2 separate regions of the Homo sapiens genome follow, and region 1 is linked to region 2. The links come from fine-mapping of genetic effects on gene expression. A gene starts in region 2. The other region holds a variant in brackets. All regions are shown on one strand. Distances are from middle to middle.

The links.
Region 1: its variant is fine-mapped to the expression of DNAJC6 in whole blood (INTERVAL, PIP 0.98).

The regions. Positions count from the first base shown.
Region 1 is chr1:65,203,852-65,219,088 of GRCh38, forward strand. It overlaps AK4 (adenylate kinase 4), which reads left to right. Exons shown (of 5, transcript NM_013410.4): 3 at 14,903-15,075. Among named protein-coding and RNA genes, the nearest start is that of AK4, 63 kb to the left of the region's middle. RefSeq lists enhancers at 3,607-3,686, 9,676-9,775. The variant G/A (reference allele first, on the strand shown) is at 9,503.
Region 2 is chr1:65,302,159-65,317,395 of GRCh38, forward strand. DNAJC6 (DnaJ heat shock protein family (Hsp40) member C6) reads left to right here and starts at 7,385. Exons shown (of 19, transcript NM_001256864.2): 1 at 7,385-7,780. The coding sequence starts at 7,588. It overlaps DNAJC6-AS1 (DNAJC6 antisense RNA 1), which reads right to left and starts at 7,076. Exons shown (of 3, transcript XR_007066155.1): 1 at 6,337-7,076; 2 at 4,275-4,427. It overlaps LOC112268227 (a long non-coding RNA gene), which reads left to right and starts at 9,086. Exons shown (of 2, transcript XR_002958317.2): 1 at 9,086-13,990. RefSeq lists a silencer at 1,437-1,615.

The DNA.
Region 1 (15,237 bases), 98 kb before region 2:
TGTAAAACAAAACAATGTAAAACTCTTGATTGTCCTGTCACCAGTAAGAGAACCCAGATTTTGGAGAGATGGACAGGTTGATTAGGGCTAAAGGGAGAATGAGATGTGGAAAACTGCAGAGAATTTAATTTTATCTTTTTCTGTAATACATGATCACTATAAAACATCCAAGCCATATGGAAAAATGCAACGGAAAGCAACAAATCACCTGAAATTCCACCAGCCAGAAACAACCAGGGTGAACAGTTGAAAAGCATCATTCTAGATACCTCTCTGTGCGCATATGTAGATGGAAATGTGTAAGAAGGCATCAGACTTTATATGCTTTAAAAAAGTATTTAATCTTACTGAATTTTTTTTTTTTTTTGACATGGAGTCTCGCTGTGTCGCCCAGGCTGGAGTGCAGTGGCACAATCTCTGCTAACTGCAACCTCCACCTCCTGGGTTCAAGCGATTCTCCTGCCTCAGCCTCCCAAGTAGTGGGATTACAGGCACGCACCACCGTGACTGGCTAATTTTTTACATTTTTGATAGAGACAGGGTTTCACCATATTGGGCAGGCTGGTCTCAAACTACTGACCTCAAGTGACCCACCCGCTTTGGCCTCCCAAAGTGCTGGAATTCCAGGCGTGAGCCACCATACCTAGCCTTAATTTTACTCAAATTTAACAGTAACAAAACTAAAGTGAACCTGAAGGAGTTATTACGGAGCTTCAGATAAATCTTTGTTCATCACCAAGGATATTAATTCCTGTGAGAGCTCTTCAACATTATAAAAGCCACTGGGAGACTGACATATTTGTTTTCTTTTGTTTTAAATTCACATTTCAAATTTAGACAGGAGGCATTGTCTCCACAGTGAACCCTGAGGGAACTTATACTTCCTTTAACCTCCTCTTACCCTTCATCTCTCCCAGTTTTTGTTGGCTTTTGTCATTAAAAATTTATTACAGTTTTCTTCTGCAAATGTAATTCCTCAGTTTCTTACATTAAAAAAATTTAGGTGAATTCTGTGCACTGGTTCTTTTACCCACCTCTACTCATTTTATTTTGATTAATCTCTTGGTTATATCTCTGTGAATATACTAGAAATCATTGAAATGTACACTTTAAATGAATTAATTGTATGGTACGTGAACTGTATCTGAGTAAAGGTGCACTGCTGTTTAACACAGCTTTTTCATTCAACACTGGGTTGACTGGATTTTGCTGGATATTTTTTTCGTCCCTCCCTCCTCTCCCCTCCCTGCAGAAGAGCTCATAATATGTTTGAGAATGTCTAATTTTTTAAAATTAGCTAACTGATATTTTTGAGTTGTTCTTGTGTCTTTCAAAACATTGCAACCATTGTTACATTTTCTTCTGGCCTGGTTCCCCATTTTATTTTATTTTTATTTGTTAAATAGAGACAGGTCTTGCTCTGGCACCCAGGCAAGAGTGCGATGGTGCAGTCGTGTTAATAGCTTGCTGCACTCTCAAACTCCTGGATCCTCCCGCCTCAGCCTCCCAAGTAGCTAGGACTACAGGTGTATGCTGCTGTGCCCAGCTAGTTTTTTATTTTTTGTTTAGACAGGGTCTTGCTATGTTGCCCAGGCTGGTCTTGAACTCTTAGGCTCAAGCAATCTTCCTGCCTCAGCTCTCCAAAGTACTTGGATTTACAGGCGTGAGCCACTATGCACAGCCCTTTTCCACCTGTTTCAAGGTGATTTTTTTTCACCCCGTATAGACTTTCTAAAGAGTTATTTCTTCATACTTGAAGTCAGTAGAATAACTTGATGTTGTTGTTATTTATTTATGTCCTATATAGAGTGTATCCTCCTGATCTGCAATTCAGTTCTTTCCTTTCAGGGAAGTTTTCCTGTGTTATATCCTTTTTGTCATTTGTTCAGATTTCTATTTCAATAATACTAGTTATATTGGATATTCTATTGACTATTTTTTGTCTTTATACTTTAAATTTTTCTTGCTTCTGTGTTTCCTTCTACTTTCAGGCACACTCATATCTTTTATTTTGAGGGCAGGAGAGAATGAAACTTTGTTTATATTCCATAACTGTTTGATTATTTTTCAACCTGTATGTGCCATGCACCTGTGCTGTGGGCCCTTGCACTTACTGTTCCCTCTACCGGCAGTGCCCTGTCTCCAGATATCCGTGTGGATCGCTGGATACAGATCCCTACACAGATAACCCTTCCTCAGAAGGTCTGTCTTGTACCATTCTGTCTACCTACGTCACTCTCCTTACATTATTATAATGTGACATTATGTATTTATGAGCATATTCGATTTTCCATTCCTCCCCTATCCCTCCACCCCCAGTGCAGGCCCCAGAAAGCACAGGTTATATCCATTTTGTTCATGGCTATATTGCCAGTACCTATAACAGTGCTTGGCATATAGTAAAGACTTGTACATCCAGTTGCAGACAGGTCATGCCTGCAATCTGTAGCTGAGCCTTTAGAAGGTATACTTGAATTCTGTTACTTTTCTGGGGATAAAAATATGGGCCTATGGTGAAATCATTTACAAATTTCTTTAGTCTTAATTGAGATACAGTGGGACCGGTTTTCCCCTAATTTGTGTATGGGGACTTATATTCAAAGAACAAGCAAGCAGGCCGGACGCGGTGGCTTGTGCCTATAATCCCAGCACTTTGAGAGGCCAAAGAGGAGAATCACTTGAGTCCAGCCTGGTTAACAAAGCCAGACCCCATCTGCGTGTGCGTGTGTGCACGTGCGTGCGCACACACACAAACACACACACACAAAACCAATGTCCAGGTGTGGCGATGTTTGCTTGTAGTCCAGCTACTTGGGTGGGGGGTGGCTGAGGCAAGAGGAACCCTTAAGCCCAGGAGTTAGAGATTGCAGTGAGCTATGATCGCATCACTGCCCTCCTTCCTGGGTGACAGCGAGACCCTGTCTCAAACAAAACAAAAGAAACAAACCACGCAGAATTCTTAAACAGAAGAGGCTTTAAGCAAGGGGTTTGTAGATGACAGCTCCTTCCTCAATGGAATATGCATTTTCCCTTATGGGAAAAGGGCTCAGTGATTTTAGTATAACTTACTTAAGAACAAGGGTTATAAGGTAACAGTTTTATCTGTGTCTTTATTCAGGAAAAATCCTCGCGATGATCCCAGAGGATCTCAGTGAAGCCATTTGGGAATTTCCCCAAGAATTCCTACCTGAAAGGAATTTATCTTTTATTTCCCTAAGCCTCTTTGAAGATGCACACTTGTGGTTTAAAACCAAATTTTCTGGAGTACTTATCTTCTGCTTATCAGTGGATCACCAAGTAGTGATTGTAGCATATCTAGGTTTTTAAAGTCTTTTTCTTTTTCTTTCTTTTCCTTCCTCCTCCCTTCCTCCCTACCTCCCTTCTTGCCTCTATCTTGCCCTGTCACCCACGCTGGAGTGCAGTGGCACGATCACAGCTCACTGCATCCTCAGTCCCTTGGGCACAAGAAGTCCTCCCATCTCAGCTTTGGGGTCTTTTTCTATTAACCTATAAGCTTCCTGAGGGCAGGACCCACTTATTTCAAATCTCTTAAACCCTGGGATCTATAACTAGTGTCCCAGGAAGCTGCCATGAGCAGGAAGTGGGTTCTAGAGCTCTCAGCACTGTGGGGAGTGTGGGGCTCACAGAGTGGTAGGAGGAAGCATAAACTTCAGTTGCTGACATCTGGAGCACAGCTGCTGTTTTTTTTTTTTTTTTCCTTCTACTTTCATTTTAGGTTTAGGGGATACATGTGCAGGTTCGTTACACGGGTAAATTTCGTGTACAGATGATCCTGTCACCAAGGTAGCGTAGTACCTGATAGGTAGCTTTCCAACCTGCACCCTGGTCCTGGTTCAAGCAGTCCCTGTTGTCTGCTGTGCCCACCTTTGTGCCCATGTGTATTCAATGATTAGCTACCCCTTATAAGTGAGAACACATGGTATTTGGTTTTCTGGTCTTGAGTTAGTTCTCTTAGGCTAATGGCCTCCAGCTGCATCCATGTTGCTACAAGGGACATGATCTCATTCTTATTACGGCTGCATAGTATTCCATGGTATATGGAATATATACCACATTTCTTTATCCAGTCCATCATTGATGGGTATCTTGGATGATTCCATGTTTTTGCTATGGTGAATAGTACTGTGATGAACATACAAGTACATGTGTCTTTTTGGTAGAACAATTTATTTTCCTTTGGGTGTATACCCAATAATAGTTTTGCTGATAGTCGTAAGTTCTTTGGGAAATCTCCACAGTGCTTTCCACAGTGGCTGCACTAATTTACATTCCCACTAGCAGTGTGTAAGTGTTCCTGTTTCTCTGCAACCTTGCTGGCATTTGTTGTTTTTTTACTTTTTCGTAGTAGGACAGCTGCTGCTTCTTTTCACCATCTGTTAATAATAACTGGATGACATGGAATATGGAGGTCTTTGATACATGTACAAATAAACATTGTGTAAACAGATAAGGAAAGTATACGATAGGAGAGAGAAAAGGCCTTTATGAAGCAGGTTTTGGTGGTAATTAATTTGCTACTAAGGCTTCCAGTTGGTGATGTGAGTGATTTGAACTCCTGGGCTAGGGAAGGCTGTGGAAGAATAACCAACCACCTGCTTTCAACTTTAAGCTAATCATCAGTGATTGATTGTCATGAACAATGGCTTGCATTTGTAACTTGGTTCTTACTTATTCAACAACTGGGAAGAGATGGGCGGTCCGAAGCAACTATGTTAGCTCCAGATCTTAATGGAGGTAGGAAGGGGGCTGATGTCGCATAGCCTTTTCACAAGCTGCCAAACCCAGGCGGATGTTGGAAGTTGCCCTTCTGAACTGCCCTTTCATTTCCATCAGGCGGAGGGCTTGCTTTGCTGCCTGGGAACGTGGTGGTGGACTCTGGCTCTGCACCCTTCCTGCAGAGTGAATGCGCTCCAAATTAGAAAAACAGAAGTGTCCTACTTTCTATTCCCCACCACTGCCTCAGCTTGTTGCCGCAGCACCTCCTGCTTCAGCTGCCCTTCCTTGGGTTCTTGGCATGGCTGGGAGGAGCAGGTGCCAAGGCCCAGTGGCCAGCACTGCTGGGAACACAATACCAGTCAGGAATTTAATGATATCTCACTGCACTTAGTAAATATTTTGTGGGGGGGGTCTTAAAAAAAACAACCTGTAGATGTCATAATTAGTGATATAACAAGACAGATTCTGGAAGAAATTTAAAAATATAAAATTTCAGCTTTCAATCTGGATTGGCTGTTTGAATGAAAAGAGTGAGCAGCTTTTCTAGGCTTGGTTAGGGGATGAGGGATAGCGATAGTCTGGTGTGGAAGCATGATAAAGCATGCGGTGGAACAGACCCTCTGAGGAGCTAAAGGGAGGAAAGCAAGCAGTCCATGCTTAAACATGATCTTTATTTTACGTTAGCTCTTGGCATTTCTACTTCTTCAACAATTAATGGAATATATTCACATTTGGAATGGGCTAATTAAGGAACCTAGAATAACGCTAGTCAGTCATTTAGAAAGCCTTTCTTGGAGTGTTACTTTTAGTAAATGTAAAAGCATACTTCAACTTGTAATTCTCTCTAAATGGAAAAATTATAAATGCTGCCACCTGTTGACAAAATTTGAGGGTGCATTCTACTCCAGTTGGTCAGTGATCCCTGCCGACAGGGGATCTTACTGGCTGGATAATGACCCTCAGCTAAAAATGCTTTAAAATGTGCTGGTCTGACTGTACCTTATCTGACATTCTGTTCTTGGCGGCTGATTGGTGTGAGAAGTACACCTGAATTGCTTTGATTTGTTTAGCCCAACTTGAGACACAGATGTAGATCAATTTAAAGAATGCTGAAGCTCCCATGCTACCTTATAGAATCCATCATTTAAGACACCATTTCATATTGTATGCCCTGAAGCCTTAAAGTGGATCTGTGGCTGAAAAGTATGTTTTTCTTTTTCTTTTTTTTCTTTTTTTGAGATAAGAGTCTTGCTCTGTCACCCAGGCTGGAGTGCAGTGGCATGAACATGGCTCACTGCAGCCTTGGCCTCCTGGACTCAAGCGATCCTCCTGCCTCAGCCTCCTGAGTAGCTGGGACTAAAGGCATATACCACCATGCCTGGCTAATTTTAAATTATTTTGTAGAGACAGGATCTCACTTTGTTGCCCAGGCTGGTCTCAAAATCCTGGGCTCAAGTGAAATCCTCTCAAAATGCTGGGACTGTAGGTGTTGACCATTCTTCTCGGCTGAGTATCCATATTTTAAAAGTCTTGTAGATGAATAAATACTACTACTTACTTGGTAGAGCACTTGCCCTTATGTCTAACCAGAGTGAGAGAGAGCCCCTTTTCAGGACCTGTGACACAGCACCCCAAACTTTGGAGGCAGCCTTAGCCTATCCCCAGGGCCTCTGTGACCATTGCTGGGTCTAGGACACCACACTCGCCCTGAAAGTGGCACTCTTTGAGGCCAGTCACTTCCAACTCTGCCTTTCATTTCTGAGAGGAAGGTAAGCCATCCTCCTGTTCTCCTTTCTTTTATATCCGCTTCGGTTTCTTTATTATTGATTCCCCTCCTCACCGTACCCTCTGGAATCCTTTTTCCTTAACAGTTTCCCCCACCCTCCTCGCCACATACACATGCTATTTGCAGAAGTCTCCACTTTCTGTATTAAAGAAAACCTAGATTTCCCCTTAGGATGCTACTTTCTTTCTTGTCTTTTCTGTTACCGAGGACTTTCTCCTATGTGAAAATCTCATGTTGGGTGATGGTGGTGGTGGTATTATTATTCTGTCTCCTAGTGTGTCTTTCATCCTTTTCTAAAAGCTCAAATCTATCTTTATCCTTCATATCTTTCTTCTCAAACCTGCTGTTTGTCTTTTTACCTCCAGTCCCACATTGCCTTCATTTTTTCCCAGTACCGTCCGCCCCCTGCCATGCAATTTATCCTGAGCCAGCCACTATTCTGGAATTTACATATAGTAATTTGCTTATTTCTCACAATGACTTTATGAATTAGGTATTACTATTTTCATAGGCACAGAGAGGTTAAGCAACCAGGGTCACAAGTAAGTGGCTTAGCTGGACCTCAAACATAGGCAGCTTGCCTCTGGATCTATATTCCTGTGAATCAACTTTTCCTTAGTCATGTGTTTCAGGTCATGTGCAAAGATGCTCATTGCAGTATGACTGGAAACAACTTGGATGTCCACCATTAGGGGATTGGTTAAATTATGCTCTATCTAAACCATGCTGTACTCTGCAGTTATTAAAGAGAATGATTCCCAGCACTTTGGGAAGCTGAGGCAACAGGATTGTTTGAGGCCAGGAGTTCAAGACCAGCCTAGGGCACAAACCAAGACCCTGTCTCTGCAGAAGAGAATGAGACAGTAATATGTAATATGAAGAAAAAAATCTCCAAAGAGAAAAAGCAAGATGCAGAACATTTGTTGTGTGTATGTGGGGAGAAAATCTGGTCTGTGCGTGTAGCACTGGATCAGGCGGTTCCTGAAGCCATACAAGATTTAGATTTCTCAAGTCGTTTTGTAAGCTGCCTGTCAGAGACATCAGGATCAGGCATTTCTCCCTGTCTGAGAATTTGCTTCTCACAGTCTGCAGTTTTCTGTTCAGGAGGAAGACAGCATGGTGTGGTACATGGCGTGTGATTGTAGAGACAAATAGCACTTGATTTAAAGCTAGATTAGTCACTTATCATGTGATCTTGAGCAAGTCACTTCACTTTTCCCAGCATTGGTTTTTACAGTTTTAAAATGGGGATAAGGCCTACCTGACAGAATTATTGTTACTTTTGAGATAATATTTACTCATTCAACAAATATTTTCATTCGGCACTTACTGTGTGCAAAGCACGCTTACAGCACTAAGGTTATAGCAGTAAACAAGAACTTAAAATGTTCTACTCTAATTTAGTTTACTTCTGGTAGGAATAGAAACACTTAAAAAATAAGGTAAATCATATATGGCAAATGGTGATGAATATTCTGAAGGAAAACAAAAAGAAAATAAAGGGTGAATAGGAGTGTTGGCGTGTGGTAGAGGTGCAGTTTAACAGGACAGTTAGAAAAGTCTTAACAAGGCACCACTGGAGCCAAGATTTGGAAGAGCTGAGGATACACATGGGTATCTGGAGCAAAAGCAGAGGGAATATGAACTGTGAATGTCCAGGGTGGGCACCTGCTTGAGAGCTGCAAGGATGCCGGTATGGCTGGCACGGAGACGTGGACAGAGAAATGAGGTGAGAGAGGTGGCAGGACAGGGGCCCAGATGGGTAGGCCTTTGCAAGCCTGTACAATTTTGGCTTTTCCTCTGCATGTAATATATCTGGCACATAAGGGATGCTCTACAAATGGTAACTGTGTTATAAGGATGCCACCATGATGCCCTGCTTTTTAGGTAGGTAGAAGAAAGATAGACAGGGTAACATTTTAGGATTCTTTTTTTTTTTTGAGACAGGGTTTCCCTGTGTCTCCCAGGCTGGAATTCAGTGGCGCGATCTCAGTGCACTGCAACCTCTGCCTCCTGGGCTCAGGTGATCTTCCCACCTTAATCTCCCAAAGTGCTGGGATGAGCCACTGTGCTCAGCCTAGGATCCACCCATGCTCACCCACCCAACTTTTTATTTTATTTTATTTTATTTTGAGACAGGATCTTGGTCTGTCACCTAGGCTGTAGTGCAGTGGCACAGTCACAGCTCACTGCAGCCTCAACCTGCTGGGCTTATGCAATCCTTCTACCTCAGCCTCCCAAGTAGCTGGGACTACAGACGGGCACTACCACGCCCACCTAATTTTTGTACTTTTTGTAGAGATGAGGTCTCACTATGTTGCCCAGGCTGGAGGATTCTTTTTAACAATTACTTTTTATATGCCTGATACAGCAGCATCGTTGCATAGAAAGAGAGAACACTTTAGCAGAAATCTAAGGACCAGATGTCATATGCATTGTGCTGTTGGCTTTCACTGAATCCAAGCTTAATTAAACTGAGGCTAATAACTTCTCTATCCACCTCATAGGGTTAATGAGAAGAGTAAGAGGTAAGTAAATTTATAGAAATGCTTTGTGAACAGTTTAGTATATGTGAAGCATAAAGGCTATGTTTGCTGAGTTGCAGACTTGGAAGCCATGTAGTCCAGCTCCTTCCAAGGCACAGTTGTCTTGTCTTTGTGAATGCTTCTAGAAAAGGGCACTCACTACAGAAAATACCACAAAGCTGCCACTTTTCTTGATTTGGATCCTTAGTTACAGTTAACACAGCCTGCACGTGCACTAGTTCCTTGGAAGTTATACCATGTTGCTACCTCAAGGTACACTTGTATTATCAACAGCTTAAGAGTGAGTCTTTGTGTTGAATTTATCCATCTGTAACCCAAATGAAACCTCACCGTGATAAGGTATTGAACCAGATCAGGAAAGTAGATTAAGGAGCTTTACTATTAAAGAGTCAGGTAGGTGATGAAAGGGGCAAACTGAAAACCAGTGGAAGGA[G/A]GCTTATGGAAGTAGTGGCTGTGTTGTGCCCAGGTTCTGTGCTGTGCTGGGGTTGAGCTCCCTGTGACTCATGACTACCTGTGCTGAGCTGTAACTGCCACAGAGAGCACCAGGGACTCCCCAAGCTCTTAGAAAAAACCCAGAAAAGGAATTAAATGTGGGTGGATGAGGGCCTTTCTTTCCTGCTGCTGCGTTTTTATTGAATTGGGAAATGAGCTGAGCTCCTAGGTGAGCTCTACCAAGAGCAGCAGCAACCGTTTATTAATCAGCACACTCTCCATGTGCCCAGCACTTTGCATCTTATACATTTGACAGGGATTGTCACTTTTAATCCTCAAACTGCCCTGTGCAGTAGGCATTACCCTTTGTCATGGGCTGAGTTGTGGGTGTGTCCTCTGACCCCGAATTCCTGTGTTGAAGCCCTAACTGCCCCCCCAGTACCTCAGATTGTGACTATATTTAGAGAGAAGGTCTGTAAAGAGGTGATTAACTTCAAATGAGGTCATTAGGGTGGGCCCCAATCCAATCTGACTGGCGTCCTTATAAGAAAAGGACATTTGGACGTGGATACATAGAGTGAAGACCATGTGAAGGCAGCAGGAGAGACAGCCATCTATGAATCAATTAGAGGCCTCTGAAGGAGCAAACCCTGCTGATACCTTGGTCTTGGACTTATAGCTTCCAGGATTGTTTAAGCCACCCAGTCTGTGGCAGCCCTAGCAAACTAATGTGCCCTCATTTTTGTTGTTGTTGTTGTTTGTTTGTTTGTTTGTTTTGAGATGGAGTCCCTCTCTGTTGCCCAGGCTGGAGTGTAGTGGCACGATCTCGGCTCACTACAACTTCCACCTCCGGGTTCAAGTGATTCTCCTGCCTCAGCCTCCTGAGTAGCTGAGATTACAGGCGTGGGCCACCATGCCTGGCTTATTTTTGTATTTTTAGTAGAGATGGGGTTTTGCCATGTTGGCCAGGCTGGTCTTGAACTCCTGACCGCAAGTGATCCACCCGTCTTGGCCTCCCAGAGTGCTAGGATTACAGGCGTGAGCCACTGTGCCCGGCCCCTTGTTTCATATCTGATGAAACTAAGGATCTGAGAGTAGATGAAACTAAGGATCTGAGAGTATATGAAACTTGCCAAAGTTCTCACAGTTACGGCTAGGTAAAGTCCCGGGATTAAATCCAGGTGCGTCTGATTACAGGTAGAGATAAATCTAGGCATTAAATCCAGGTGTGTCTGTTCCCAAAGCTTGTGCTTATACCTAATGTGTTATTGAGTCCTGAATGTGTCTACCTTAAGGCTATTTCTCCTCACTTTTGAAATAGTGAGTGGCACCCAGATCTTTGACTTATTTCTGGTCCATTGTTCTTACTAATATACCATGCTTGCCTCCCCTGCCACCACTTTCCTTAGAGGTAAGATACTGCACAAGTACATGAGAGCCTCTGGAGAAGAATGTCACAAACAGGTGACTAAGTTAGGGAGTTCGTAAATCTGGAAAGATTTGCATGTGTTTGGGACTTTCCTTCCCAGCTCACTTCTGATGAAGTGAGATAGAGGCGACTTGTTCTTCAAAGTGGTTTGTTACCTACTTAGAAGTAGAGTTAAGCCTGACAGAAAAATGGGGCAGATAAGTGTTTAGTGTCATACTTGCACTGTTGCTGTCACTGAGAAGTTTGGTGGTTCGTCATGAATCGGGGTAAATATTAGAAATACCCAAGTCCTGCTCTCACTCCTAGATGTTCTACTCTAGGAAAGTCTGGGACAGGATCTGAGCATCCATCATCATTGATTTTTTTTCTTTTCTTTTCTTTTCTTTCTTTCTTTCTTTTTTTTTTGTTTGAGGCGGAGTCTTGCTCTGTCACCAGGCTGGAGTGCAGTGGCACGATCTCTACTCACTGCAATCTCCGCCTCCCGGGTTTCATTGATTCTCCTGCCTTAGCCTCCTGATTAGCTGGGATTACAGGCGCCTGCCACCATGCCCGGCTAATTTTTATATTTTTAGTAGAGATGGGGTTTCACCAAGTTGGCCAGGATGGTCTTGATCTCTTGATCTCAGGTCATTCACCCGCCTCGGCCTCCCAAAGTGCTGGGATTACAGGCGTGAGCCACCATGTCCGACCCTGATTTTTTCTTTTGAGTCTTCCTTGGTGATTTTGATGTGCTCATCAAATGGAGAACCCTTGAAGTTGTGGAATGGTTTATTTCTATAGTTGTTCCTTCTAAACCAGCTTTAGGTACCTGTTGCTTGTAGTCTAAATCACTGGAATTAATTATCATCTGTGGTCTTTAGCAGGTCTGAATGTGAGAGTCCAGTAGGTAGCAGGTGCTATCCAACATGTTTTTGAAATTTTTCTTGCTGAGTTCAGCCTATTTTGTACACTTTGCATTTTACTCCTCCAGAGGGCTCTAGAGCTCAGCTGAGCAGACTGGCTTGTTACCCTCATTAGACAAAGAAACTAGCCAATAAGATTTGAGCTTTTATTTGTTGGAGGAACTAATGTTATGTTATCTTTTAGAGCTTCCTGTTCTTTTCTTTTCTAGTGCTTCCCCCGCTCCCAGCTCTCAACCTCTATCCGATATAAAGACTGTTTTCTTGTCAAGGTCACAGTTAGTGATGCTAGAACACAAGGCAGAGACTGTGGCTAAGCTTTCAGGTCTTAGAAGAGGGATCTCTAAAATTCTTTGTTTACATTTATCAGTGAGAAGGTTGAATTTACATCTTCAATATATGGATAATTATGTATAAATTATTTATTTACCCATGCAGTTTCACTAATGTGATTGCAGTGCTTTTTTTTTTTTAGACAGTCTTACTCTGTCACCCAGGCTGGAGTGCAGTGGTACAATCTCAGCTCACTGTAACCTCTGCCTCCCAGGTTCAAGCAATTCTCGTACCTCAGCCTCCCTAGTGGCTGGGATTACAGGCATGCGCCACCAGGCCCAGCTAATTTTTGTATTTTTAGTAGACATGGAGTTTTGCCAGGCTGGTCTCGAACTCCTAGCCTCAAGTGATCCACCGGCCTGGGCTTCCCAAAGTGCTGGGATTACAGGCATGAGCCATCATGCCCGGCCACTAATACGACATTCTTTTAAAAGAATGAGCCAAGCCCTCCCTGCCTCCCGCTTCCCCAAAGTTCAAATATTTTCTTTCTGTACTTCAGTGAAGATAACTTTGGAAGCCACTGCTTTAGAAAATGCTTTTCATTGATGTGGCAGAGGTTTGCGGGGAAAGAGTTTATAGATGATCTTGAGGTTGTTTGGGCTGTAGGTACCTTTCTTTTTTTTTCTTTTTTCTTTCTTTCTCTTTCTCTCTGTCTTCCTTTTCTTTCTTTTCTTCTTTTTTTTTTCTTTTTGAGACAGGAGCTCACTATCTCACTCTGTCACCCAGGCTGGAGTGCAGTAGTGTGATTGTAGCTCACTGCAGCCTTGAACTCCTTGGGCTCAAGTAATCCTCCCACCTCAGCTTCCCAAGTACCTGTAACTACAGGCATGCATCACCAGTAAAAGCAATTTTTTAATTTTTATTTTTGGTAGAGATGGGTTCTCTCTACATTGCCCAGGCTGGCCTTGAATTCCTGGCCTCAAGTGATCCCACTGCCTCGGCCTCCTAAAGTGTTGAGATTACAGGTGTGAGCGACTGTGCCTGGCCTTGCAGGCAACTTTTTATTCCAATTGCCATCTTGACATTGTAGTGAAGAGTGAGTTGTCCAGGGAAAGGCAGAACCTGACAGTCATTGAGAGGGGACTTTATGTGGATGGCTCACAGGCAGTAAGGAAGGCTTTGGAGGAAGCATTGGAGAGTTAGCAAGCAATAGGTACCTGAAGCAGTGGCGTGGGTGGATTTTGTCACATTCAACTCAGTGAGCACTCAAATCAGCTTGGCATTCACACAGACTTAGGGGTTTCAATGCAGTGCTGCATATTCATGTTTGAGCCACCAACTTCCTGCAGTAAGGAAAGGAATTCTTTGAATTGTAAGTGCTACAGGGCCATGAATACCCATTTTTAAGTTGTCATCTTGATACTTCCAATTTTGAAAGGGTAGAGATGGGCTGGTATCCTTATCTGAATGGATTTAAAGTTTCTCTTCTGGATGTTGCATCTTTTATTATACTTTCAGCTCTTCATCTACCTGGTTCTTTAACTAGGATATAAAGACATTTTTTTAGAAAATGATAGTAGATCCAGCAAGATTTTTGTCAGAGCAGATAAACTGGAGTGATTTGTTTAGGAAAAAGTTACCACTGTGTAGCCCCACCAGAGCCAAACCTGGAGTTACATTTAAACAGGTCAATCTCTGAAGAAAAGTGTAATTTGGGGTCATATGACCTAACTCCTGAGGTCACCCAGAGCTTATACTTAAATCAGAAAAGGAAGAGATGCCCATGAGCCCAAATTTTAATTTTGTTATTTCCACACATTTAGAAAAGTAGGAAGAATAAGTTTTGCATTATCCCAATAGATTTAAAAACTCTAGTTCCTTTTAAAATCTTTAAATAGACTTAAAACAATTTCAAATTTTTTCCAGCTTTATCGCGGTATACTTGACAAGTAAGTGTATATATTTAAGGTGTACAATGTGATGCTTTGATACATACAGTGTGAAATGATTACCACAGTTAGGTTTAATAATTAACATATCCATCATCTCACATAGGTATGATTTCTTATGTGTGTGGCGAGAATCCTGAAAATCAACTCTGAGCACATTTCAAGTGTACAATACAGTATTTATGATAGTCACCATGCTGTTAATCAGATTGCCTACCTTGGTTAAAGTGCAGACTCAGGTGAAGGTCTGGATGGAGGATCATACTTTAATTGATTTAGACTCTAAAATAAATGTATATAGTTATTTTTGCTAACCTAAGAACCTACTCATAAATGGCTAGTGTTAAAATGATGTAAGATAAAATGCTTTCCCTTCACTTTTTTAACAGAAGTGGAAATGGAGGTGATGTAACTTGCCTGAGGTGACACAGGTAGTTAAGAGCAGAGAAAGGACTAGAGCCAGGACTGGTTTAGTGATTTTTAGTTTAGCGCATTTTAAATTTTTATCATATGATTCCTTAATCTTTGAGTCTTCCAAATGCAGAAGCTAGGTTATAGAATAGCATATTTTATTTTAATATTACATTTATGGAGGTAGATATTCTTGGTTAAAGCTCATTTTTAAAAAATAATTTCAACTTTTAGATTCAGAGGATACATGTGCAGGTTTGTGACATGGATTTATTATGTGGTGCTAAGGTTTGGGATGCAAATGATCCCATCACCCAGATAGTGTAAAGCTCCTTTTAGAATGGTATATGCAGATTTAATTCTGTCACTGAAAATGTTTCAAGAACTAATTGGAACTGGGCAATAGCTTGCATTTCACTTGTTTTGTTCTTTGCATTTAGGTTTTCCTAGGACATTAGGACAAGCCGAAGCCCTGGACAAAATCTGTGAAGTGGATCTAGTGATCAGTTTGAATATTCCATTTGAAACACTTAAAGATCGTCTCAGCCGCCGTTGGATTCACCCTCCTAGCGGAAGGGTATATAACCTGGACTTCAATCCACCTCATGTACATGTAAGAATATACAAAGTGCTTTCACAACCTGACAAGAAAAAGACAAACAATTTCCATTGAAAAGTGGAGAAAAGGATATGAGTAGACCATTCAAAAAAGAACAAATCTACATGACCAAAAAACATTTTTTAAATGTTCAAATGTAGTTGTCAGGGAAGGGAC
Region 2 (15,237 bases):
TATATATTATATTATACATTTATATATTATGTTAATATATACATTAATATATTATATCAATATAATATACTATTATATTGATATATTAATATATAATATTATATATATTATATATTATATAATATAATATATAATATATATAATATATATGTTACAGTATAACATTGCTGTGGTTTGAATATCCCCTCCACAACTCATGTTGAAATTTAATTGCCATTCTGACAGTAATAGGTGGTACCATTAACAGGTGATTAGGCCATAAGGGGTCCACCCTCATGAATGGATTAATGCCATTACTATGGGAGTGCACTCTTGATTAAAGGGAGTTTGCCTCCCCCTTAACCCCCTTGCTGTCTCTTCCTTTCTTTTTTTTTTTTTTTTTTTTTTTGAGACGGAGTCTCGCTCTGTCGCCCAGGCCGGACTGCGGACTGCAGTGGCGCAATCTCGGCTCACTGCAAGCTCCGCTTCCCGGGTTCACGCCATTCTCCTGCCTCAGCCTCCCGAGTAGCTGGGACTACAGGCGCCCGCCACCGCGCCCGGCTAATTTTTTGTATTTTTAGTAGAGACGGGGTTTCACCTTGTTAGCCAGGATGGTCTCGATCTCCTGACCTCATGATCCACCCGCCTCGGCCTCCCAAAGTGCTGGGATTACAGGCGTGAGCCACCGCGCCCGGCCTGTCTCTTCCTTTCTTATCCTCTCTTGCCTTCCTGCCTTCTATCATGGGATGATGCAGCACGAAGGCCCTCACCAGATGTAGGCTCCTTGATCTTGGACTTTCTGGCCCCAGAAACTGTAAGAAATAAATCTCTGCTCTTTGTGAATTACCCAGTCTCCTGTATTCTATTATAGCAGCACAAAATGAACTAAGGCAAACGTTGTTATACTATGAGCATGTCCTTGAAAAGTCAAGGATAAGTTAAATGTTAGCAAATGGAAATGTGTTTTTTAAGTGAGCTCATTAAAGAAACCAGAGCGATTTTTTCTGTAAACTAAAGATGGCTTCCAAAATAAAGTTTTTTGGTATTTTCATTCAATTAGCAGATACTTACTGAACACCTATTACTTGGCAGGCACTGTGCTAGACCTCATAAAACATGATGGGTGTTGTCTTCACCTGCCAGAGTTGCTCAAAATACGTGAATAATAAATTGACAAATATATTCTCAGACTAATATACGGTCAAATAATAACATTTGTTACATCGGTTATAAAAGTTTTTTAACATATTAACATTTAAGAAATCTTGGGGTATCTTAAGATTGATAGTATGTCATACTTTCTTTAGTAGCATATTTTTCTTATGTTGTGACTTAAAATGGATGGTTTCTTAGATTTGATAACATGCAGTATTTAGGGCTTTAGTGTTTATTATGTGCTTCCATGCGCCTCATTTGATTCTCTCTTCTTTTTTTTTTTTGAGACGGAGTCTCCCTCTGTCACCCAGGCTGGAGTGCAGTGGCATGATCTCGGCTCACTGCAACCTCTGCCTCCCAGGTTCAAGTGATTCTCTTGCCTCAGCCTCCTGAGTAGCTGGAGCTACAGGCACGTGGCACCATGCCCAGCTAATTTTTTGTTTGTTTGTTTGTTTGTTTTTTAGTAGAGACGGGGTTTCACCATGTTGGCCAGGCTGGTCTCGAACTCCCGACCTCAGGTGATCTGCCTGCCTCAGCCTCCCAAAGTGCAATTTCCATAAGTTGCCCAAACCATTTTCCACTGACCACACTTAGTAAGGCAGGTCAGATCTAAGGAATGACCTAAATGTCCTTCAGCTTTCACTTTGATCAGTGGAATTGCCTCTTTAGGCTGCCTCAGTGGCCAAAGCATGATCAGAAAGATGGAGGTTTGAATCCTAACTGATTGTTGTGTAACCCTGGGCCAGTTACTTAACCTCTCCAAGTCTGCCTCAAAATAAGAATAAAATCTTTAGATTTAAGGTAGGTAAGGCACCTGGCAAATGATAAATAATCAATGGCAGTTATTTTGTTACTATTAGAGCATCAAGGAAACACAGGTTTCATGATATTGGGTTATCTTAAAGAAAAAAAAAAAGCCCTACCTGGGAAATTTGTCCTATTTTCTGGAAGACCCAGAACCCCATCAAACACCAAGAACAGATATCCCCACTCCTAAGAAACATTATAGGAATAGTTCAGATTTTCTTCTGTTAAATGTCATCCATCAGCTCACCCGATTTTTTCCAGCAGACCTCCTCTTCTATCTTGTGTGTTGCTTTATATGTCGCTCTTGACAGCTGCTACTATTTATGCATGCATTTCTATAGCAAAACCTTGATTAACTGGGACACAGCAAACTGTAGCACTTAAATGACTATGGTTTTCCCCTATGGACATCATTTGGAGGAGAGAGGGAAGTGACAACTAAAGTTTTGAGAACTGAAGAGAATCATGTAATTCCACATCTTCGATTTTACTGCTGAGAGAAGGAGAATGGATCAAGGCCACCCTGCTGATTAAGAGCAGAGTCAGGAGAGGATTCTCGGTCTATTTTGCTTTCTTCTGGACTGTGGCCTAAAGATGTGTCTTTTGGCATCTCTCTTGGGGGTATTTCTCCTTAAGGTTTTGCCACTACACTGCAGGTCTCAAACTCAAATGCCTGCAAGGGCTAACTGGTAATAGGAATGAGTGGAGGAGGCTGAGTATTCTACATTGGGAAGTAGTAGTGAACTATGGTCCTCAGACTGGAGCCTATATACCCTCTGTAAAGGCATCTAAACTAAAATGTTTTTCATTTTAAGAAGTACAGGACCGACAAAACACATCTGGGAGTCAGAGATGGCTTGATGTTCCCCAGTTGAAGTGCCTTGCACTATGTATATCTATAGGCCTTATTCAATAAGGAGATAATCTGGATTATGGCCCTCAGGCACATTGCCAAAGTAAGTTTCAATACTGTGCATTGATTTATGTTTGTTAAAACAGAAAATTGAAGAGACGCATTTTAGAAACCTGATCATAATATATTTTGTAACAGAGAGAACAGAGTAGAAGCTCTGGCTTCATTTACTGTCTGCTTAGCCAAAACTCTTTGTGGTCCAATTAGCCAAATGAATTCAGATGTCACAGTGTATAGGACATTCATAATTGGGAACACTAGGACCTCTTAGTACCAGAGATTGTCCCATAACATAGACATTCAAAAACATTTATAATCAGGACACACAGTGAGAAATACATTTATATCATTACTGAGCAGAAACATACACACACTCATACATATCACACAAACCCAAAACAATATTTTAAGAAACAATATCTTACTGCGTTCCAAACTCTGATGTTTTCCAACCTATTTCATTTTTATGAAAATACTTTATAATTTACTCATCGGCTACAGCATATAGTTTAAATCACTGGACTAGGTAATGCCATGACATTTTTGTTTATTCATTAATTCAGTAGATATTTACTCAATATCTAATGAGAGCGAGGTGCTCTTTGGAGTGTCATGGGGGACACAAACATGAACAAAACATGGATTTTTGCCCTCAAAGAGTCCAAATCCAATAGGAAATACATACACGTGAATATTTAAAAACTCAGGGCAAAACAATCAGTTCACATTTGACAAACTGCTTTTATGTTATCATAGTCATAATGATAACAAATCTCTTAGGTAAGCTGGGCAGATTTAAACTTAATTTTACAGATGGGAAGTTGCATTTTTGAAAAAGTGACATTTTAAAAAGAAGTGGAATGATAGTAATAATAGATAGCATATGTTAAGCACTTATTATATGTTAGGAACTAATTTACTTCTTACTATAACCTTATTATGATGGCATTACTATAATCCTCACTTTACAGAGGAGAAAAATGAGGCAGAGAGGTTAAGTAACTTGCCCAAAGTCATAGAGCCAGGAGTCATTGGAACTAAGAATCAATCATAGGCAACTTCAATTTTTTTTTTTTTTTTTTTGAGACAGAGTCTCGCTTTGTTGGCTCACTGCAAGCTCCACCTCCTGGGTTCAAGCGATTCTCCTGCCTCAGCCTCCTGAGTAGCTGGGACTACAGGTGCCTGCCACCACGCCTGGTTATTTTTTTGGATTTTTAGTAGATACAGGGTTTCACCGTGTTAGCCAGGATGGTCTCAATCTCCTGACCTCGTGATCCGCCCACCTCAGCCTCCCAAAGTGCCAGGACCACAGGTGTGAGCCACCACACCTGGCTGGCAACTTCAATTTTAATCAATGTATTATATTCTCTGGAAATGAAAATCACAGATCAAAATCCTACATAGGTCATGGCATACATACCTTGATCTCTTAGCCCACCCCAAAAGTGATGTGGCATCTGCTGTGACAGGATAGCATTTGGAATGAGGTGTGTATGAAGGGGATGGGGTGGAATAGAGCCTGGTTCCTCAGTATTCCTCAGTGTCACTAATCTTCATCAAGTTAATAAAGCACCTGAAGGCAGCAAGAGAAAAGACAAAGGGAATGATTGCTGTCCCCAGAAGAGGGCATCTTATCCTTTGCCGTTGTCTCATGTATGATGTAGTATTTTTGAGATAAGTTATGAAGTAGTCTTGAGTTTGGAAAACCAAGAGTTAGGCTGTAAATGTTCACCTTGTGTTTGACCAGTGCCACCTCCCTTAAGCCCAAATTCTCATTCAAAGTTACAAAGACAATTTTCCATTAGGATATCCCTGGAAAAAATAATATTTAGCCTTTATTGAGCTTTTCCCATTTGAAAAACTAAGACTGCCAGGCGCTGAGCTTAAAGCTGCACCCAAGACAGACCAATAATGGTAATAGAGAACAATTGTTAAGTACTACTCTCTCTCTCAATCTGTTTCTCTCTCTCTCTCTCTCTCTCTCTCTCTCTCTCTCTCTCTCTCTCTATATATATATATATATATATATGTTAGGTACTAATCTAATTCTTCTATATAATGATGGTACTCATATTATGCTTGTTTTATAGAGTAGAACAGTGAGATATTCATTGATAAGTATATGAATTTGATCTTTAGCACAGTAAAGAAAATTTTAATGTTGAAATTGGTGCATATCCAAATTTAGGCCCAAGCCCTAGTTTTTAGGCTGTTGTAAATTAACCTAGTTATTGTATTTTCCTGCCTTAATATGCTTCTTATATCTTCAATTTTATAGGATTATTAATAGTTATCCTGATTGACTTTATTTATATTAAGTATAAAGATAAAATTCTTATAGCCCATTCAGATTTTTCTTTACACTTGCAAACTCCAGAGATAGATATTGAAAAATACAAAGGCATATGTCTCATCTATAATTTCTTTCAGCAATATGTCTGCAAGTTGAGCAAAAATAACTGAAAGTGCTCTTTTTGAAAATAATAATTTTCACTTTTCAAAAATGATCCTGTATTTATTTATTTATTTTTTGAGACAGGGTCTCAGTCTGTCACTGAGGCTGGTTCTAAATTCTATTAATCCAATGATTATAGTCCAGCATTTGTCAGGGCACATGATGAACACTAGGTATTTACTGTCCCTGTGTGTCTGTAATGAATTAAAAGAAAAAGTACAGAGAAAGATTATTTAAGATGTTATGGGAAAAGATTTACTAGACTTCACAGAATTATTACTTTAGTCAAGTAACTAAAATAATTCAATCTGACAGATTTGGAAAATTGAAAGTATAAAAATTTGTTTTAAAATTTTTATTGCAGTTTTTCCTGCCACCATTCAGATTGTTTGATCTTGTTATAAATGAGCATTAACTCTGATTTGCAATTCAGGTCACACCATACCTCATCAAAGAATGCAGTTGGGAAAGCAACTGGCCAGGAAGTTTAGGTTTCCCCAGAAGGACTGGAAGGATTTAGAAAACATTTCTTTGGACTTCTTCTGGTTGATGCTCTTCCTACAAGAATCTGTGTTTGGGTGATCCTTGTACAGGAAAATGTCTCTTAGTCCAATTTATTTTATGTAGAACTGTGTAGAGCTAGAGCTTCCCGGAAACTTTCTGAGACCCAAATCATCTGGACTGAAGTCTCTTAGATGCTATTGTTTGATTTTGTGTCCTTAGGTGATTGATATAAGGACAGCAAGAGAAAACCATGTAAGATGAGAAGAAAGCAAAGCTGGCTTTGTGTATGGGCTCAAGTACATTTTACATGCACGTACTTTTTTCCTGTTTTGGTGAGGAAACTCTGTCAAATGACTCTTGACGGGCGCCTCACTTAGTCCCTCCAAGTTTTAGTAGAGAAAATGATAATTTTTAACCAAGACTTACTTGATCTTGACCTAAGATGATGAGAATGAGCAATCCTTCTGAAATCTTATTATTTTAGGTGAAAATAAACATTCGATAATTACATTTTAAGACTTACCAGAGTTTATCCAGGTTTTGTTCAGATCCAGAACTTATACAATGTCGGAGTCTTCTTTTAAGAATACACGATGACAGATACAAAATTAGGTACACAGCTTAATTAACTTCATGATAAATTCTCTTCTGATTATGAGTTACTGCTTTCTTTGGCCAGAATTGTGAAAGAAAAATAAGGCGTGAGGCTAGAGGATGGGGAAAAAAAATCCTTGTCTATCTTGCTTCCCAAGCAGGCCTTCAAGCTAGCTAACTGAAACAGTCTTTTCTCCAGGTCCTAAGGTAAATGGTGGCGGATCTGAAAATGCGTCGGACTTAACCTTGCCCTTCTCCCCAGTTTATTCGCTCAACAAAGAGTTCTAAACAGTCACATCTGCTCTCTAGGCAGAACGGACGCTGCCTCCTAGTATTAGAATACCCAACTCTTTGATATCTCCCTTAGGGATCATCCCTATTCTGGAGAATGTGCAAAATATTGCTCTTCCTTTATATCCTAGCATAGATATATTCTGGCACTTAACATGCATTCTTTTTCTGTTGAATTGAGTTACAAGTCAGTTCTCTAGGACGGTTACCGTCCTGGTGGCTTTGGCGGAATCTTCCGGTGAAAATAGGCTAAGTTGCATGAAATGGGTGTGTCTGGATTTTACCACAAGACCCCTGGTCCTCAAAGCTTCGCAGGCCGAGATACCTCGCCCCTTTCTTCTCTGTCACACGCGTGCGAACACACCCTCCCAACCCACGTCGTAGTAGTCCCCTCCCCCGACCACCCCGCCCCGTTTCCCTTCAACCCCCCTCCTCACGAACCTCCCCTCCCTTCCTACCTCCCTTTCCTTCCCTCCCCGCGGGCCAGCGGCTTTGGCGCTGCCCTGCTGCGCGGCGGGGCGACGCGGCGACACCTATAGGATTGCTTCCGGGCACTCCTCAGCCAGGAGGTGCTGGCCTGGGGCCCGGAGCTCGGCAGGGCCGGGCGGCTCCGCGGCGTTGGCCCAGAGGACGCGCGCCCCCGCCCGGCCGCGTCTCCTTCCCTCCCTCCCTCCTCCCGGCGCCCCGAGCCGAGCTCAGCCCAGGGCGGCGGCTTCGCCTCGCCCGGCGAAGCTTCTCTCCGGTGGCCGCTCCTTCTTTTCCCTCCTCTTTGCGTCATGTCGGGCACTTAATTTTTTTTTTTTTTTAATTCCTTCTTCAGCCCTTTCCACCTTCCATCTCCCTTTTCGCTTCCCAGGTTGATTATTTTCTCTTTTCTCCGGGCTTGCCCATGAGCCTCCTCGGGAGCTACCGGAAAAAGACCAGCAACGATGGTTATGAATCTTTGCAGCTGGTGGACAGTAACGGGGACTTAAGTGCGGGAAGCGGCGGGGTTGGCGGCAAGCAGAGAGTGAACGCCGGGGCAGCGGCGCGGAGTCCCGCCCGACAGCCTCCGGACCGCGCCAGCACCATGGACAGCTCAGGTAGCGCTGCCCGAGGGGAGTGCAGCGCTGAGCCCCGCGCGGCCTCCGGAGCCTCCCAGTCGCCCGGCCCGAGGCCCCCCCGTGGTCCCCCAGCCCCGGTTTGCGAGAGAGCCGGGCTGGAGGCGAAGGCTTCTAATACCACCTGGGTGTCGAGTCTCTAATTTCTCTCATCCAGGGAGCTACGAAACGTTAGATCAGTCCTGAGGCCCAGAGACTGTAGCGAGCTCCTCCTAATCTCTCTAGACTGCTGAATACGGCAGCTGGGGGCGGGGAGGGGGAGGGAAGGAGGAGGGGAGGGGTGGAGAAGAGAGGGGAGCGGGTGGGGCGAAGAACGGCTTGGGAGGAGGGCTGGGAGAGGCAGCTGCTTTCACTGCCCAGCTGGATGAGGGGGAGAGGTGAAGGAGCATGTGCGTTGATTGTTTTTGCAGCATGCAGACGGTATTTATTCCAATTGTTATTCTTGCAATGCTGATGCTATTTGCAATTCTGTAAAGCTCTGCCACATCTTAACTCAGCCGTCTGCTAGGGTTAATGTTACCTTTCTCCTGCAGTTTTTAACCTGGGATCTAGAGCTCTTTTACACAGCTTTTACTGTTTGCACAATGAAATTTATTTCATGTGTTGGCTTTGATCTTGTTTGTCCTTTTGCTTGAGTGTACAGATTTCATAAACCTTTACATGTAGGGACAAGGAAATTCCTCTAAACTTTGTATCGGGGCTTGCAACTGTCTTTTATAAAAGGTTTGGCAAGTTAGAGTCCTCTCTTGGAACTGCTGTTGGCATTTGCGATTTCAATAGCAAAACAGTCATTTAATATATCCATGTTGGACTAGGAGTATTATTATAGCTATTTGCTTACTTCTGCAGGGAACCAGGTTCGGAGAATTGTTTACAGAGATATTTATAATTGAAGTCCTCAGTGGTTGGTTCTACACTGGTAACTTTAATACTGGACAACTGAGGATTCCAGAGGAAAGATTCATATGGGGTCGTTTGAACAGTAATGAAATCAAACTGAATTTAAATGCCCTGCTTTGCAAACAAATGCTTGTTTATTTTAATTGTGTAATGGCTGTCCTTGGGCTATTATTTTCTATTTTCCTTGTCCCAAAGTGGGATGAAATATTGTCCACAGATGCTCAAATGTCCTGGGCTGAAAACAAATTCTACTCATTGAAGCTCTTATTGAAGTTAACCAAGATATTGATGGGACATTCTCTTAGACCATTTTAAATAAAACTAAAATGATCCCCAAGGGATTGATGGTTTCAGGACTGTTTTTTTTTTTTTTTTTTTTTTTTTTTGAGGCGGAGTCTCACTCTGTTGCCCGGGCTGGAGTGCAGGGATGCGAACTCGGCGGACTGCAAACTCCGTTTCCCGGGTTCAAGCGATTCTCCTGCCTCAGCCTCCTGAGTAGCTGGGATTACAGGCACCTGTCACCATGCCCGGCTAATTTTTGTACTTTTAGTAGAGACGGGGTTTTGCCATGTTGGCCGGGCTGGTCTTGAACTCCTGACCTCAGGTGATCTGCCTGCCTCGGCCTCCCAAAGTGCTGGGATTACAGGCATGAGCCACCGCGCCCAGGCAGGACTTTTTTATTGATGTTGTATGTGGTTATTCAATGTATGTTTTTTCAAATCTGTGATATATCAAAGTGTAATCCATCTTTTGACTGGATGTAATCTCCTTTAAATCTTAAAAAGATTCATGTTCTCTGAATGATGCCACCATAATAATGTTTACATGTAGTGAGCATGTAAACAATTGAAATGAAAACAAACATATTCCAAATGAGTGTGAAGGAGCCTCACTTCAGGAAAATGAAAGAAATATGAAATACATATGTTTTCCTTTTTCATAGGGATTATTATTTTAAGAGTTGAAATTGGTTTTTGAAATATGTTACATTGTAGAATAAGTTCAACATACATTTTCTGAGCCCAGCTATGTGCCAAGCACTGTGAGGGAACACAGTAGTGAATGAGATCCTTCTGGCCTCTAGGGGACTCTCAGTGGGGGCAGTAACTATAACACAGAGCAGCCTATGGTAAGTCCTGGATTTTTGAGGATTGTCTTTTTCACTAAATCAGACTTTTTTAATAGGTGGAGAGAAGAATAATGGATTGCTTTAATAATCTGTTGTGATGGGAAAGTGTTTCATTAAGAATATTGTTATCTCTAAAGTGCTATTGCCAGGAGTTGATTCTTAAACTTGATCAAAGTGGTGTTGTGTGAAGAGGCTGCAGGGATTCCTTTTCTCCTCCCCTTATCCATCATTCACTCCTATATTTTATTAGGGGAATATTGTGGCTTTGTTGTAGAAGTACAGGGTATCTTACAATGATTTTGATGCATATTTTCAACTGAGAATGATTTGTTTGGTTTGAATGAAGGATTGGACTCTGAGAGTAGGATTCTTTTACTAGTACAACTATATGTCTTGCCTAATTATAGTTCTTTCTTCTAAGATCCTCAAAGTGTGGCCTGTGCAGTGTAAATATATCCATTTGTTTAGTATATCTAATTAAGTTCATGGATCATTTCTAAAGTGGCAGTAATCTGCCCATTTATTCAACTGATTGTACTGTGACATGCTGGATAGGATCAGTGGTTTATGGGACTTTTGCTCTGATAGAAATATTAATGAGTGGAAAAAATATGTTGACATCTCGCTACATGATTTAAAGCTTAGTCTTAATAATACCTTAAACTTGTAAGACTGTTTATAATAGAACACTTGGACAATTCTCTTATTTCATTTCCCCAGAATTTTATTAAATAGGTTGGGGAAGCAGCATGTGTCTGTGCTTGGAGACTTGGGATCAAACCTCTGCATTATTGTTACTCGCTGAAAAACCTAGTAACCTTTTTCTTTTCTTTTCTAGACAGATAGCTCTGTCACCCAGGCTGGAGTGCAGTGGTGCGATCTCAGCTCATTGCAACCTCCACCTCCCGGGTTCAGACAATTCTTGTGTTTCAGCCCCTCAAGTAGCTGGGATTACAGGCGTGCACCACCACACCCGGCTAATTTTTGTATTTTTAGTAGAGACGGGCTCTTGCCATGTTGGCCAGGCTGGTCTCGGACTCCTGGTCTCAAGTGATCTGCCCGCCTTGACATCCCAAAGTGCTGTGATTACAGGGTCTTGCTCCATTGCCCAGGCTGGAGTGCAGTGGTGTGATCATGGCTCACTGCAGTCTGGACCTCCTGGGCTCAAATGACCCTCCTGCCTCAGCCTCTTGAGTAGCTGGGACTACAGGTATGAACCACCATGCCTGGCTAATTTTTTTTTTTTTTTTCTTTGTAGAGATGGGGTTTTTTGCCATGTTGCCCAGGCTGGTCTCAAACTCCTGGGCTCAAGCGATCTGACCACCTCGGCCTCCCTCCCAAAGTGCTCGGATTACAGACATGAACCACCATGCTTGGCCTGTTCCCATTTATAAAAGTGGAATCATAAGAGCTGTTCTTACCACAGAGCTTTAGTTGAGGCTGAAAACAATATAAAAATACATTTGCAGTTTTTCTTTACTTTGTATCTTGCCCTTTCAATTTATCATATGAAGAAACTTATTCTCAGAGGTGGTAGGAGACCTATCAAAGGTAGAATAGATAATGACAGCCAGACTTAGGTCTTCTGACTCAAAGGTTTGAGTTTTTCCCCATTGAACTAAACTTTTGGGTAGACACAATATCAACTGATTGTTGAAATGGAAACATTTTTATCTACTTTGATTTCCCCCCTGTTTTTAGATAAAAGAGGGGTACATGTTCAGAGGAATGTAATGGCTTTCTAAGTCAACAGCCTCTCAAGTGGTAGATACCAGAGCAGTCTCCTAGCCAGATGTGACTTCCAGAGCTCTCTGCCTTCCCTGGCTCACTTTCTCTTCATTCAAATTATTCTCTAGAAAAGGTTGTCATTTAAAGGTCATCCTGTCATATCTCAAAGGCACTGCACTATCCCAATGCCGAAAACCCCCTATTTCTCTTGTGTGCACCCCACTTTTCAGGGAAAGTAGAACCACAAAAGTAGAACTTTCAATATTGAGCTGCTAAAGTGTTCCAATATTGGGCTTAATTTACCAAGTTCATAATGACAAACTGAAAAAGAGTAGTCCAATTAAAATCTGGAAACAGATATTAATACTTTTTAAAGAATAAGTATAATGATAGGTAAGGATTTCTCTTTTGATTCTCACTTTTTAGGCTTTGTTCTATATATTTAAATATATAGAAATTCACATATATAAATAAACAAAATATTGTATATATTAAAAAAAAAGAATAAGGATAATGAACAATGCTAAAATACCATGTAGTGTGAGTCTGGTTGGAAACAAAAATTACCTTTAACAAATTCTATTTTAGTTAGTGTTTAAACACAGCATCCACATTTTGAACCAGGTTTCAACATTATGAGATACGTGTTTGGATAATTGTATACTTCATGGAAGTATAATAAACATATATGTACTAATAATCCTTTCTTAAGAATATCTGCCCATTGAAGGGTCTTGTAGGTTGGAGGCAAAGTTTATTTATATAACTTATTTTTTATTTTTTTTTTATTTTTTGAGACGGAGTCTCACTCTGTTGCCCAGGCTGGAGTGCAGTGGTGTGATCCCGGCTCACTGCAACCTCTTCCTCCTAGTTCAAGCAATTCCCCTGCCTCAGCCTCCTGAGTAACTGGGATTACAGGCACCCACCACCAGCCAGGCTAATTTTTGTACTTTTAGAAAAGACGGAGTTTCGCCATGTTGGCCAGGTTGGTCTTGGACTCCTGACCTCAGGTGATCCGCCTGCCTCAGCCTCCCAAAGTGCTGGGATTACAGGCGTGAGCCACTGTGCCCAGCCAATTTATATAACTTATTTAATGTGTGGTTATAGTTTGGATGTTTCTGGATAATCGTTTAAAGATGCACCAGTTACTGGATTACAGAATAAGATACGTCAATTTAAGTTTCAAATTTCAAATGCTTGGAGACTGCCAGATTTCATAGATTTGGAAGGGGAATCCCTGGAACCAAATCTCGGAAAGTTGGCCAGGTAGCCAATGGTGGACACTTTCTGTGATGGAGCTTTAGCTACTGGGGCAGTGTCTTTGAACTGTTCTCATCAGTGCAGAGTTCTTTTTATTTGGGCAAAATCAGCCTTTCTGTTCTCTAGATACAAATTATGTCTAATCCTTCTTTCACATGGTAGCCCTTAGACAACAGATTTTTGAGAACAGGTACTAATTCTCTCTTAGTCTTAATTTTCCTCTTTTCTAGGCCAATCAAACCTAAGTTCCACATGCTTTTTTCTCTATATAAAATGATTTCCATATAATTATCCTAAGCTTTGAGAATAATGTTTTTTTTTTTTATTATTTTGCACAACAGGGGTTTTCACCAATTTTTATTATAAAAGGTTAAAAAAGAATTAAAGATTACAGAAAGGAATAAAATGAGAAAAGTTAAGTATTCTCTCCCCTCCCTGATCATTTAGGTCCTTGCCTCAGAGATAACTTCTACTAAAAGTTTCTGGAAGGACTTTCAACGTACAACATGAGTGTGTGTAAATATATATGCTTTACACATATATGTATATGTATGTGTATACCATTAGAATTATAATAAAATACAAATTCAAAGTTTAACCATGTTCATATATGTACATTGTTCAATAATGCTTAATGACAAAAATAGCTACAATTTAATTATTATAATTCAGGGATTATGCTAAACACTGCATATGGTGTCACATTTAACCCTCATAAGAATCCTATAAGGTAAATGATAGTAACGGTCATCTTATAGTTGAATAAACTAAGGCACAGAGAGGTTAAGTTGCGTGAGGTTACACAGGCTCTACTTATTCTATATTGAGTAAAATGCCATAGAGAAATGCCCATACGATTGCAAATGAAGAATTTAGTGGTGAATTTTTTTATTTGCTTCTTTCTCTGAGGCAAGGAAAAATAGGAGTGATTGAGAGAACCAAAATGAGTTCAGTTGTTTTTTAATCCCATGAAAGTACAAATATGTTTTCTTTACTTAAATATAAAGAATTTAAAAACACTGGAAATGAAAACAGCAAAAACAGCATTGAATAAAGCTGATTAAGACTTGATACGGCACTGAGAGAACAATACAATTGATGAAGCATTATATATTTTTGGAAAAATATATTGCAAATGAAAATGGATCCCCACTGCTCTTAGGATAAAATCCAAGGTATTCTTAACAGGACATCAGAAGCCCTTTGTGGCACCTGTGAAAGCTGGCCCAACAAAACTTGTTGTCGCTCCACTGGTAGATCCCCTCCCCAGCCTGCACCTCCATCTTTATGTTTTTGCATACACTGTTCTCTCAACTCAGGCCAACTTATCCCATAGACCCCTGGACACCCACTTTTCCAGGTTATCTCCTATTCATTCTTCAGGGTTTAGCTCAGATATTCCTTAATCGCAGGCTGCATGCAATGGTCATTCTCCATGCTCCTCAGCAGCCTTTACTTCCGTATCACAGCTCTCATCACATTGAGTTGTGACATGCTGCCTGGCCTGTCTCTCCCTCTAGTCTGTAAGTAAAGTTCAGAGCAAGGCTGGGTCTTATTTGCCTTTGTAGTCTTGTCATTGCTTGGCATTTATTAGGAGCCTGATAAATACTTGTTGGATGCACAAAAGCATGAATGGATTTTGAATTTTTAAAAGGGCATTTATAATGAAATATGCCCATCCAAATCTAAAAATAAGCATACAGCTAGGTTTTAACAGAAATGAGGCCAGGTTTGAGAGAAATGTAACTGTTGGTCGAAAGCTAGACCAATTCAGTAATGAGCATTTTTTCATATGTAAAGACACTGGAAGTGAAAGAAAGATGGTTAATATATAGCCTAGATCCTTAACAGTTTTCTAATATAGACATGTCAAGAAAGAATTAGCTTACCAAAAGATTGTGCTTTTTCGACCAACAAATACAATCTACTGTATGATTCATCATAAAGGTCACTTTTTTTTTTTTAGCCAAAAAAGGAAACTCAAAATGTATACAATTTTTTTAATGAACTGACAATAGATGACTTTCATCTATAGATCTGTGTATTTCTTAATCGGTGTCATTAAGTTTTAATCTTAGCCATTTTCAGGTTTAATATTAAAAGTTCTTTGTATCATCTTTGGCCGTCTGCAGTTGTATATAAGCTTTGTGCTAACTTAACTGCTTTTTTAAATCTGTGCTCACCATCTTGAACTCCTTTTGGAAAAAAGCTATGTTTGAGATGGATGAAGAATGCTGGAGTTTAGATTGTGCATTTCCTTGTTGCGAAAGGTGTAACTCTGAAAAAACTAAATTACAGTTATTGTATATTAAACAGCTATTCCTGAAATTTACTTGGAAGCTTTTGAAAGAGTAGCTCAGTATCTGAGGAGAAGTTCTTCACGGTCCAAGAAATTAGGAAGTTCCATAACATGTGCCAAGGG